Regions from separate parts of the Homo sapiens genome. Here region 2 is linked to region 1. The links come from fine-mapping of genetic effects on gene expression. A gene starts in region 1. The other region holds a variant in brackets. All regions are shown on one strand. Distances are between the middles of the regions.

What was found. PIP is the estimated chance that this variant, and not a neighbour inherited with it, causes the effect. A credible set is the group of variants that fine-mapping cannot tell apart.
Region 2: its variant is the best candidate, but not a certain one, in a credible set for the expression of DRAP1 in whole blood (INTERVAL, PIP 0.59).

The regions. Positions count from the first base shown.
Region 1 is chr11:65,916,931-65,922,288 of GRCh38, forward strand. DRAP1 (DR1 associated protein 1) reads left to right here and starts at 2,496. Exons shown (of 7, transcript NM_006442.4): 1 at 2,496-2,613; 2 at 2,850-2,922; 3 at 3,018-3,111; 4 at 3,413-3,532; 5 at 3,639-3,732; 6 at 3,954-4,042; 7 at 4,400-4,633. The coding sequence starts at 2,572. The coding sequence ends at 4,505. It overlaps C11orf68 (chromosome 11 open reading frame 68), which reads right to left and starts at 2,132. Exons shown (of 2, transcript NM_001135635.2): 1 at 1,980-2,132; 2 at 1-1,288. The coding sequence starts at 2,101. The coding sequence ends at 529. RefSeq lists enhancers at 1,249-2,168, 2,169-3,089 and a silencer at 1,886-2,955.
Region 2 is chr11:65,976,409-65,981,766 of GRCh38, forward strand. It overlaps SART1 (spliceosome associated factor 1, recruiter of U4/U6.U5 tri-snRNP), which reads left to right. Exons shown (of 20, transcript NM_005146.5): 13 at 1-160; 14 at 248-358; 15 at 606-693; 16 at 1,155-1,245; 17 at 1,356-1,491; 18 at 2,192-2,281; 19 at 2,385-2,506; 20 at 2,604-3,729. The coding sequence ends at 2,622. Among named protein-coding and RNA genes, the nearest start is that of SART1, 17 kb to the left of the region's middle. The variant G/C (reference allele first, on the strand shown) is at 2,939.

The DNA of each region.
Region 1 (5,358 bases):
TGGGCAAGCCTCATGTCCATGGTCCTGGCATCCCCTCTGCCAGGGGATAAGTAGGCACAACTACCCTCCCCTCAAAATGGCATGCTCAGGCCAGTGGGGCCCCTACCCCTGGACCATGAAGGCTCCAAGAAGGGCTGGAAGCACTAAGTTTTCTCTCTCCTGAGGGGGAAGGAAAGAAGGGGAGATGCAGGAGGAAGGGGAGGTATAGCGGGGGATGAGCGTTCCAAGAAGTCTCTCCTTCTAGGTGTCTGCACCCAACTCATGGTGCTGGGCAGTGGAGAGGAGCAGCATTACAAAGGGAGGCTGAAGGCTCATCCCTCAGGGAACCGGAGCCCCCCAGCCTGTGGGGCTTGTGTCAGCCCTGAACAGAGGGCAGAAGTTCAAGGGGACTGAAGATGCAGGTAGTTCCCAAGTGACCTAGGAGTCCCCAGAGCTGGGGGGTGTGGCCTTCATAGGACAAGGAGGAAGACAGGAGGATCCAACCCCAGCATGGAGGGGGGAGTGGGCAGTCTCCCCAATTTGGCCCCCCTAGGTCAGTTCCACGTTGTTGGCACGGTCAAGCACTCGGGAGCCACGGGCACTACCCCCAAGCTGGAAACGGCTCTCATAGAGAGTGGGGCAGAGGTGCCAGCGATTGGCCCGGTAGATGCCCAGGTAGGTGTAGACATCAGGCTTGTAGGTGAGCAGGCACTTAATGCCCGCTGCACGGATGGCTGAATCCGCCTCCAGTACACCCAAGCGGTCCGTGAAGTCGTCCGTGTAAACACAGATGACCTGGCGCCCACCCTCCTTGGCACGTGGGCTCACCTTGGCCACCTGAAGCTGGCCTTCAACCACGGCCCGGGCAATGCCAGCCCAGGCGTGGTCCAGCTTGAAGCCCGGTGCCAGATGCATAAGCCACTTGCCCGAGAGCACGTGGTGGGTGATGGCGAGCTGGCGCAGGGTACCCGGTGTGATGGGCCGCCCACTGGTCTGCAGAGCTTCCCAGGCTGCCTGCAGGCCCTGCACGTCCCCGGAGTTGGGGCTGTAGCCCTGCCCATACACTGCAATCCAGCCCACAGGCTCTGAGTTGGGTGAACCGGGGTCCCCATAGCGGGTAACTTGGGATGGTGGGTACTTGGCCAGCCAGGCATCCAGCTCAGTGGCAGGCGTTGTGCGGGCATCAAACACTAGCCAGGGGTCCATGTCAGCTGCCATGGCCTCTGCAGCCAGGTGCTCGGCGGTGAAGCCATCCTCACGGCCACCTGGAGAGCCCTCCTCTTCCAGCTCCTCACCTGGTTCCATCCTGCTGTGAGGGAACCGAGTCAGGGCAGGGTCTGAGACAATAACTACAGATGCCAGGCACTGGATTAAACTGTGGCCTTGAGTAAGAGTTACTGTCGATGCGCCTCAGTTGCCTCATCTTTACAATGGGATAACAACTGTTCCTGTCCCGTAGATCTGCTATGAAAATTAGATGCCTGAGGAGTCAGCGCTCCAGAAGGGTTGCTGCAGTTATTACTATTCTCCTTGACTTACAGAAAAGGAAACTGAGGCTGAGAAAAAGGACTTGCCCAAGGTCACACCTGCAGTGCGTGGCAGGGCCGAAGGGTGAATCCAGGCGTGGGAGCAACCAGCCCCAGCTACACCTCCCGGCCCTGCCAAGGCCCCCTTTTCCTGGCAGGTATCCGGTGCGCTGGCATTTAATAGAGGAACGCAAAGAAGCGCACGTTCGCGCAGCTCCCGAGGCCGGCTCTGTAAGGCCAGGCCTCCCAGGCAGGCGTTATCGGGCCCACTTACAGACGAGGACGCTGAAGTCCAGAGAGGTTACAGGCCGTTCCGAGGCCAATGGGGCGGTTCCCAGACTCGAACCAGGGCTTGTTAGAGCCTGCAGGAGAGCCAGGCTCCGGCCGTGCCGCGCCCGCCGCCATTAACGCCCACGGGCCCGAGCTGTGCTCCCGCCCCGGCCCTGCCCTGCCCCTCCCGCCGCCCGCAGTCACCTCCGGCCTTCGCTGCGTTCGACGCCGGCCCAGCCCCGGGCCCGGCTCCGCTCCTGCCGTGGCTCCGCGCCACCGCCACCGCGCCCCACCCCCGCCACGGCCGCCGCCGCCGCCGCCGCCATCTTAGCGCCGCGCCACCTCAACAACAACTTTATAGACAGGCGCAGCCACAGGGCGGAGCCGCGGGCCTCAGCGGCCGCAGCGGCCGCGCTGTGGGGCGGGGCCGGCAGGGGAAGGGGCGGGGCCGACGGGGAGGTGCTGACTCGGGGGCGGGGCCATCGCGGGAACCCCGGGAGGGGCGGGCCGCGGGGGGCGGGGCCAACGTTCGCTCTTCTGGCCTTGGGGGCGGGCGGGAGCGGCGGTCCAGACTGGGGAGGGACGCGCACCGGCCAGGAGGCTTCAAGAGGAGGGCACTAGGGCCCTGCGAGCGGCGTCTTAACCGGCGGCGCTAGGACTCCGCGGGAAACGGCGGGGGCGGAGCGGGCGGCACCAGGACCCAGGGGAACCGCGACGGGCGGGCGGCGAGCAGGCCCGGGAGCCGGGAGGCTGCGGGCGGCGGCGCTGGACCCGACGCGGCGAGAGAGGCCCCGAGATGCCGAGCAAGAAGAAGAAGTACAACGCGCGGTTCCCGCCGGTGAGCACGTGGCAGAGCCCGGCAGGAGTGGGCCCGGCTCCCGGGTGGCTTGGGCCCAGTTCCCGCTGGGCAGGCGGGCGCGCCGCGGTGTTCGGGGGCCTGGACGCCCCGCCCCCTCCATGCCCTCCCCGCGTCCGTGTCCCCCGCCCCCTTTCTCCGGGGATGCCCCTTCCTCCCCCAGCACCCCCTTAGGGGACGGTGGCGACGGGGTCTGAACTCTGCTCCCCCACCCGCAGGCGCGGATCAAGAAGATCATGCAGACGGACGAAGAGATTGGGAAGGTGGCGGCGGCGGTGCCTGTCATCATCTGTATCCTGCCGGGGGCGGACCGGGTCGAGGGGCGTGGGGGAGGGAGGCAGCGGGTCGCCCTCTCCTGCCCCGGAGTTCTCCTTGACGCTCCTCAGCCCGGGCGCTCGAGCTCTTCCTAGAGTCGCTGTTGAAGAAGGCCTGCCAGGTGACCCAGTCGCGGAACGCGAAGACCATGACCACATCCCACCTGTGAGCGGCGAGGAGCCGGGAGGGGCCGGCGGGTTTGGCGCGGGGAGTTCACACACTGAGGAAGGCAGAGCCTGGGTGGCGAGGGAGGTGGGCGGCAGCCGGGACACCAGCAAGGCCACAGACTGGCAGAGGAGAGGCTGGGCTTCCAGGCAGAGGGAGCCACCTGAGTAAAGCAGGGCAGGCCCGGGAGCGGAGATCGGCCCGGGCTCCAGCCTGACATCTGGGGCCCCTTGCTGCCACCCACTGCGGGTTTGGGTGTCTGGGCCCCTCTTGAGTGCCAGCCCCTCCTCACCTCTTCCAGGAAGCAGTGCATCGAGCTGGAGCAGCAGTTTGACTTCTTGAAGGACCTGGTGGCATCTGTTCCCGACATGCAGGGGGACGGGGAAGACAACCACATGGATGGGGACAAGGGCGCCCGCAGGTGGGGCCAGGGCCTGGCATACAGTGGGGAAGGCCAAGGCCACAGGGCTTGGGGGTGGCCAAGGAGTAGGGAGCACTCCGGGCAGATGGACTGTACCTTCCCAAAGGGGCCGGAAGCCAGGCAGCGGCGGCCGGAAGAACGGTGGGATGGGAACGAAAAGCAAGGACAAGAAGCTGTCCGGGACAGACTCGGAGCAGGAGGTGAGTGAGGCCCCAGCCCTTCGCCCTGCCCTTGGTGATGGGACAGGCAGCCTCGCCCCAGGCTGAACTGGCAGGAGGCCAGCTCTCATCCTTTTCTGCAACCTGTTTGCTCACTGGTTTATTTGTAAATTGGGGCTATGAGGGTCTACTGCTGTCCCTGCCACTCCCAGTGATGGGTTCGTGTCTTTTCTTGTCAACTCTGACCTCTGCGGTGCTCACAGGATGAATCTGAGGACACAGATACTGATGGGGAAGAGGAGACATCACAACCCCCACCCCAGGCCAGCCACCCCTCTGCCCACTTTCAGAGGTGAGCAGCCCAGAGGCATGGGAGGGTGCTGGCAGACTCCCCAGAGCCAACTTACCCCTCTTGTTCTCCCTGGCCCCTTGGTCTTGTTGATTGTGGCAGATTTGTGGGGTGGAAGGAGAATAACTGAGGAGGGCTTGAAGGCAGGAGACTGTTCTCCCGAAAGATCCTGCTCCACCCTGCCAGGGCCCGTGGGTGGGGCCTGGGCCTGCCCTGCGTGAGCTGCCCTGGGCCTTGGCCGCATGGATCTGGAGGGTGGTGGTGGGAGGGTCAGATGGGGGAGGGAGGGTCTTGGCAGCTGCCCCTGTGGAGGGCACGGTGGGGCTCAGGCCTGACTCTCTCCTGCCTTCTGCCCTGCAGCCCCCCGACACCCTTCCTGCCCTTCGCCTCTACTCTGCCTTTGCCCCCAGCGCCCCCGGGCCCCTCAGCACCTGATGAAGAGGACGAAGAAGATTACGACTCCTAGCGCCTTCTGCCCCCCAGACCATAGCCCCTTTTAGTTGGTTTTAGTTGCTCTGGGGGGAGGAGAGAAGGTAGAGCTGTTCTTAAATTTATTAAAAAAAAAAATAAAAGGGAATCTCAGTGTCTGTTCCAGGCTCTGCGCAGGACGTCATGGTTGCCATCCCATCCACCCACCTGCCTTCCCCACATGAAACTGGGAGCTGGGGCCGGGTGCGGTGGCTCACGCCTGTAATCCCAACACTTTGGGAGGCTGAGGCGGGCAGATCACCTGAGGTCAAGAGTTCAAGACCAGCCTGGCCAACATGGTGAAACCCCGTCTCTACTAAAAATACAAAAATTAGCTGGGTGTGGTGGTGCATGCCTGTAATCCCAGCTACTAGGGAGGCTGAGGCAGGAGAATCGCTTGAACCTGGGAGGTGGAGGTGGCAGTGAGCTGAGATCACGCCACTGCACTCCAACCTGGGCAGCAGAGTGAGACTCCATGTCAAAAAAAAAAAAAAAAGAAACTGGGAGCTGGGGCCGCGTCAGTGGCAGGTGAGGTGGCAGCGAGGGGAGAGAGGGGTCATCCGGGGAGGCTGGAGGCCCTGGGTCTGCTGAGTGCACCACAGCTGCGGACAGAAGGGAGTTGGGAGAGCTTGCAAGTGCTGGGCATGCGGGGGACACTTGCCACGTGGTGCTGCTGACCCCCGGTGGGCTGCTGACCCCCGGCGGGCTGCTGCCCTGCTCTGAGCAGCCCCTTGTCTCTCTGATGGAGACTGTTCTGCCCCCTGTAGTCTGCTGTGAAGGGATAAGTGGGACAGGGAACAGGTACAGGTCTTGGAAACTGTAGAGTCCTGTGTCCAGTGTAGTGAAGGGCA
Region 2 (5,358 bases), 59 kb after region 1:
GAAGAAGCTGGAGTCTCGCCAGCGGGGCTGGGAGGAGGATGAGGATCCCGAGCGGAAGGGGGCCATCGTGTTCAACGCCACGTCCGAGTTCTGCCGCACCTTGGGGGAGATCCCCACCTACGGGCTGGCTGGCAATCGCGAGGAGCAGGAGGAGCTCATGGTGCGTCTGGGGCGGCCCCGCCCTCTGCTTCCCTCGGCTGGGTGGGCTGGCTGGGGCCTGGGCCGACCCTGGTCTTTTGTGCCCCAGGACTTTGAACGGGATGAGGAGCGCTCAGCCAACGGTGGCTCCGAATCTGACGGGGAGGAGAACATCGGCTGGAGCACGGTGAACCTGGACGAGGAGAAGCAGCAGCAGGATGTGAGGGCCGCGCCGCTGGGGGGTGGGCGTTTGGGGGTGCTCAAGCTGGAGATGAGCACCGGGCTCGGTGTCCAGAGCCTCAGCCTCCTCATCCAGAGTGGGCTCTGCAGACCTCCCAGGGCGATCTGAGGAGTAAATGAGGAAATTAAATGTTGTGGAGGGCTGGTGCCTGGCAGGTGGTGACCAGTGGGTGGGGCTGAGAAGAGCCGGTATGGCCTGCTAACCACCCCCGCCACGTGTCCCGTAGTTCTCTGCTTCCTCCACCACCATCCTGGACGAGGAACCGATCGTGAATAGGGGGCTGGCAGCTGCCCTGCTCCTGTGTCAGAACAAAGGTAGGGAGCTCAGGGCAGCCATGACTTGGGTGGGCTTGGGTGCTGCTGCAGGTGCAGGCAGGGCCCCCTCCGGTCCCCTCTGCTGCCCCTTTCTCTCAGTCCCAATGCTGGAGCCAGCTGTCCGGCCCAGAGCCACTCCTTCCCCTCCACTGTGGCATCTGTCCGTCTGCTCTGCCTTTGAGGCTCCACACCTGCTTGGGGAAGGAGAGGGGAGTTGAAACTGTTCCAGCTGTGGCACAGAGAGCCCTGGTGTTAGGACCCCAGCTCTGCCATTTCCCTGGCCAGTGACCCTTGGCAAGGGGCTCATTTCTGCATCTTTGCTTTGCCTGTAGAACAGGCCTGATGGCTTTCCAGAGGCAAGGAAAGGGAGGTGCCCCCACAGGGCCTGCTCTGCCTTCTCAGGCGGCCCTGGAGCTGTGGCTCTCGAGGGGTTGGGAGTCTCACAACCCCTCCATCCCTAGGGCTGCTGGAGACCACAGTGCAGAAGGTGGCCCGGGTGAAGGCCCCCAACAAGTCGCTGCCCTCAGCCGTGTACTGCATCGAGGATAAGATGTGAGTGTGGTGGGGCCTGTGCAGGGCTGAGGGGCCTGTGCCAGCTTGGAGCTTCGGGACCACAGCAGGCGGCAGCTCCTCACACTAAGGCCTCCTCTGTCTCGGGCCAGGGCCATCGATGACAAGTACAGCCGGAGGGAGGAATACCGAGGCTTCACACAGGACTTCAAGGAGAAGGACGGCTACAAACCCGACGTTAAGATCGAATACGTGGATGAGACGGGCCGGAAACTCACACCCAAGGAGGTGAGCAGGGCCTTTTGCAGGCGGAGGCCCGGCCTGCCACAGGGAGGCCAAGCCCAGGGCCATGCAATGCCCCGGGCCATGCAATGCCCCAGGGTCCTGGCTCCACCAGCCTCTGGCTGGGGGCCTGGTGAATGCCACGGATGGGGAGGGGGCCCTCAGGGCTGAGGAAGGCTGTGCCTCAGTTTGTCTCTAGTGGGCACAGCAGTCTCTTTGCAAGCCTGGCAGGAGGGTCAGACAGGCACTCGGGACCTCTGCCCTCCTGTCCTCACCTGCGTGAGCCCTTCACTGGCTTTCCTGGCCCGCAGGGCCATTCCAGCGTCCAGGCCCTTCCAGCACTCTCGTAGGCCGCCCGACCGTCCTGCCCTACCACTCAGCTGCCCCCTTGCTCTCTGGGGTTTGTCTCCCTGCAGCCCCAGCCCCAGCCCCAGCGTCCAGGCCCAGCCCCTGCGTGGCAGGTCTCCAGGTTCCCCATGCTCTGCCCCCATGGCAGCGCATCCACTAGCCAAGCTGGTCTCCCGGCCTCTGCTGGGGCCCTGCAGGGTGCCAGCGTCTGTGCTCTTTTCCCATCCCCTTCCCACTGCACCCCAGGCCTGGCATTGGGGTCAATCAACACCCGCCCTGTTATTATACACCTTGTGGGCACAGGTGGCTCCGGCCCCACCCAGGGCCCTGCATCTCCTCTCATGCCCCGCGTCCCCAGGCTTTCCGGCAGCTGTCGCACCGCTTCCATGGCAAGGGCTCAGGCAAGATGAAGACAGAGCGGCGGATGAAGAAGCTGGACGAGGAGGCGGTGGGTGCCCTTGGGGATGTGGGGGGCCCTGTGCCTGCCGGGGCAGGGGTGGCTGGTGTGTGGGGCCTGCTGCAGCCCTTTCTGAGTGGCCCCGACCCCTCAGCTCCTGAAGAAGATGAGCTCCAGCGACACGCCCCTGGGCACCGTGGCCCTGCTCCAGGAGAAGCAGAAGGCTCAGAAGACCCCCTACATCGTGCTCAGCGGCAGCGGCAAGAGCATGAACGCGTGAGTGGCTCGAGGCTGGTGGGGTAGGGTGTGGTGGGGAGGGGTGGCGTGGCCTGTGCCCGCCTCTGCAGCCTCACGCCCCTGTTCTTCTCTGCAGGAACACCATCACCAAGTGACAGCGCCCTCCCGCCCCGGCCCTGCCTCAACCTTCATATTAAATAAAGCTCCCTCCTTATTTTTTCCTCCCTGGTCGTGGTACAGATTCCAGGGTTGGATCTTTGGTTGGGTGTGGCACAGAGTCTGGCTCCTGCTAGGTGAGACCTGGCCATCAAATGACACAAACAACTAAACGATGGAAGAGAGAGCGAGCCCGGGTCCTCTAAGGCTCCTTCCTTCTCCCCTGGCTGTCGGTCACACCTCTGCAGGGCCGGCTCTCTGATAGAAAGTGGAAGGCGGTTTTAGAAACTCATCACCCTGCTCTCTCCTGGCCTC[G/C]GGGGCTGCACAGGTCACTGTCCTGTAATGTCTCCCGGTCAGGGCAGCCCAGGACTGCCCAGCCTGGTGGGCTGGGGATTGGGCTTTGGGTAGGGCACAGGTGCCACCTTCTGTCCTGGCTGTCCTGTGCCACCCTGGTCTGTGTCTAGAGGAGTGAAACTCCCAGGGTTGGGCTGGGAGTATTTGGTGCACGCGGTATGGGGAGGGCTGAGCTCAGTGCCTCCTGGGAGACTTGTCCCGTGTACAGTGACCCAGAAAGATGAGATTCCTTGGCCTGAACTCTGTGATAGAGTGTGACTGAGCTGCTGGGGGACATGTGAGCCTCAAATCCATAGAAAGACAAACGGCCACCTTGGGTGCCCAGGATACTGGTGCCTGGCCCCACGTACACCCACATACTTCTCAGATGGCTCCCACATTTTAAGATTTTAAAAATGAAACCAAAAAATAAATTGAAGAAAACTGTAAACTTTAAAGAATAATCAGCTGGGCGCAGTGGCTCATGCTTGTAATCACAGCACTTTAGGAGGCTGAGGCAGGAGGACTGTTTGAGCCCAGGAGTTTGAGACCAACCTGAGTAAGGTGGCAAAACCCCATCTCTACCAAAAATACAAAGATTAGCCAGGCGTGGTGGTGAGCGCCTGTAGTCCCAGCTACTTGGGATGCTGAGGTGGGAGGATCACTTGAACCTGGGAGACACAGGCTGCAGTGGGCCCTGATTGAGCCACCACACTGCAGCCTAGGTGACAGTCAGACCCTGTCTCAAAAAAAATAAAAAAAATTTAAAATAATCTTGGGGTGAGGAAACTGTAGACAAGGTGCAAAACCCAGTAGCCTGAAAATGCATGGTTGGCATTGATGCTGTCGCTTCTGCACGGCTAGAGCTGCGGGGCTGAGTCTTAGCCTGAAAATGCACGGTTGGCACTGACACCATTACTTCTGTGCAGCGGGAGCTGCGGGGCTGAGTCTTTGGGTGCCCTTCCTTGAGCTCTGTATTCTCTATAGTTTGACATCTGACTCTTGATTCTGTTTTCACCTTGGCTGCTTCCTTGGCTTCCTCAGGAAGGGTGTCCTGGGGTGTCTAGGCTGGGACTAGGACTTGGGGCAGTCACAGTCTGTTTCTCTCAAAAGCCTAGGAGGAGGCTGGGAACAGTGGCACATGCCTGTAATCCCAGCACTCTGGGAGGCTGAGGTGGATGGATCACTTGAGGCCAGGAGTTCAAGACCAGCCTGGCCAACACGGTAAAACTCCGTCTTTGACTAAAAATACAAAAAAAAATTGACATGTAGGCTGGGTGCGGTGGCTCACGCCTGTAATCCCAGCACTTTGGGAGGCCAAGGCGGGTGGATCACGAGGTCAGGAGATCGAGACCATTCTGGCTAACACGTTGAAACCCTGTCTCTACTAAAAATACAAAAAATTAGCCGGGCGTGGTGGCGGGTGCCTGTAGTCCCAGCTATTCGGGAGGCTGAGGCAGGAGAATGGCGTGAACCTGGGAAGCGGAGCTTGCAGTGAGCTGAGATTGCGCCATTGCACTCCAGCCTGGTCGACACAGCGAGACTCCATCTCAAAAAAAAAAAACAAAAAACGGCATGATGGCAAGTGCCTGTAATCCCACCTACTCAGTAGAATCGCTGGAGCCCAGGGGGTGGAGGTTACAGTGAGCCGAGATGGTGCCACTGCACTCCAGCCTGGGTGACAGAATGAGACCCTGTTTCAAAAAAAAGGAAGCCTAGGAGGTGCTTCCAGGGTTGGGACTGGGCAGTCAGGTGTCCCTGGCATGGACCCCAGGCCCTGGCCTACTGTCCAAGTCACACCTTGACGTCTGCAGGAAATGGCCCATTAGGAGGCTGTCAAAGCTGCTGTCACAGCTGAAAATGACCGCAGCCTGGGCTAGAGCCCAGGTGGAGCCAGGGTAGAAAAGACCAGCTTCAGCTCTGCAGCCGACTAACTTTCTGGCTCTAGTAACTGGGCAGACTACGTGGTGAACCAGGGGCCTCCTCGTTCGCGCCATCTTGCTTCCTCTCTGCATCTCTGGCTCTTGGTCCTAGCCCAGAGACTTCCCTTCTCTGCCCTGGTGTACTCTGCTCTGCTCCCCAGCTGTGTCCTGCCCATGTGCCCAGGGCTGGGAGGGGTTGGGGACTACCAAATCCCTGGAGGCCTGAGCCCCCAGAGCAGACAGAACCCAAGGCGGCTTCCCACCTCTGCTGCTCGGTAGCCGGACACCAACGGTGCTTCCCCTGCCCTCAGGTACCTGAGGGGCAGCGATGGCTCAAAAGCTGCCCTGAGGGTCAGTGAGCCCTCAACCAGGGCCTCAGCCAGGTGGGTGGCACTCAGGGAGGACAGGGTGCTTATGTTTGCCCTCTATGTTTCCCTTCACTGCTGCCTGACCTGAGGCAGGTCACCAAGTCTCTGTCTT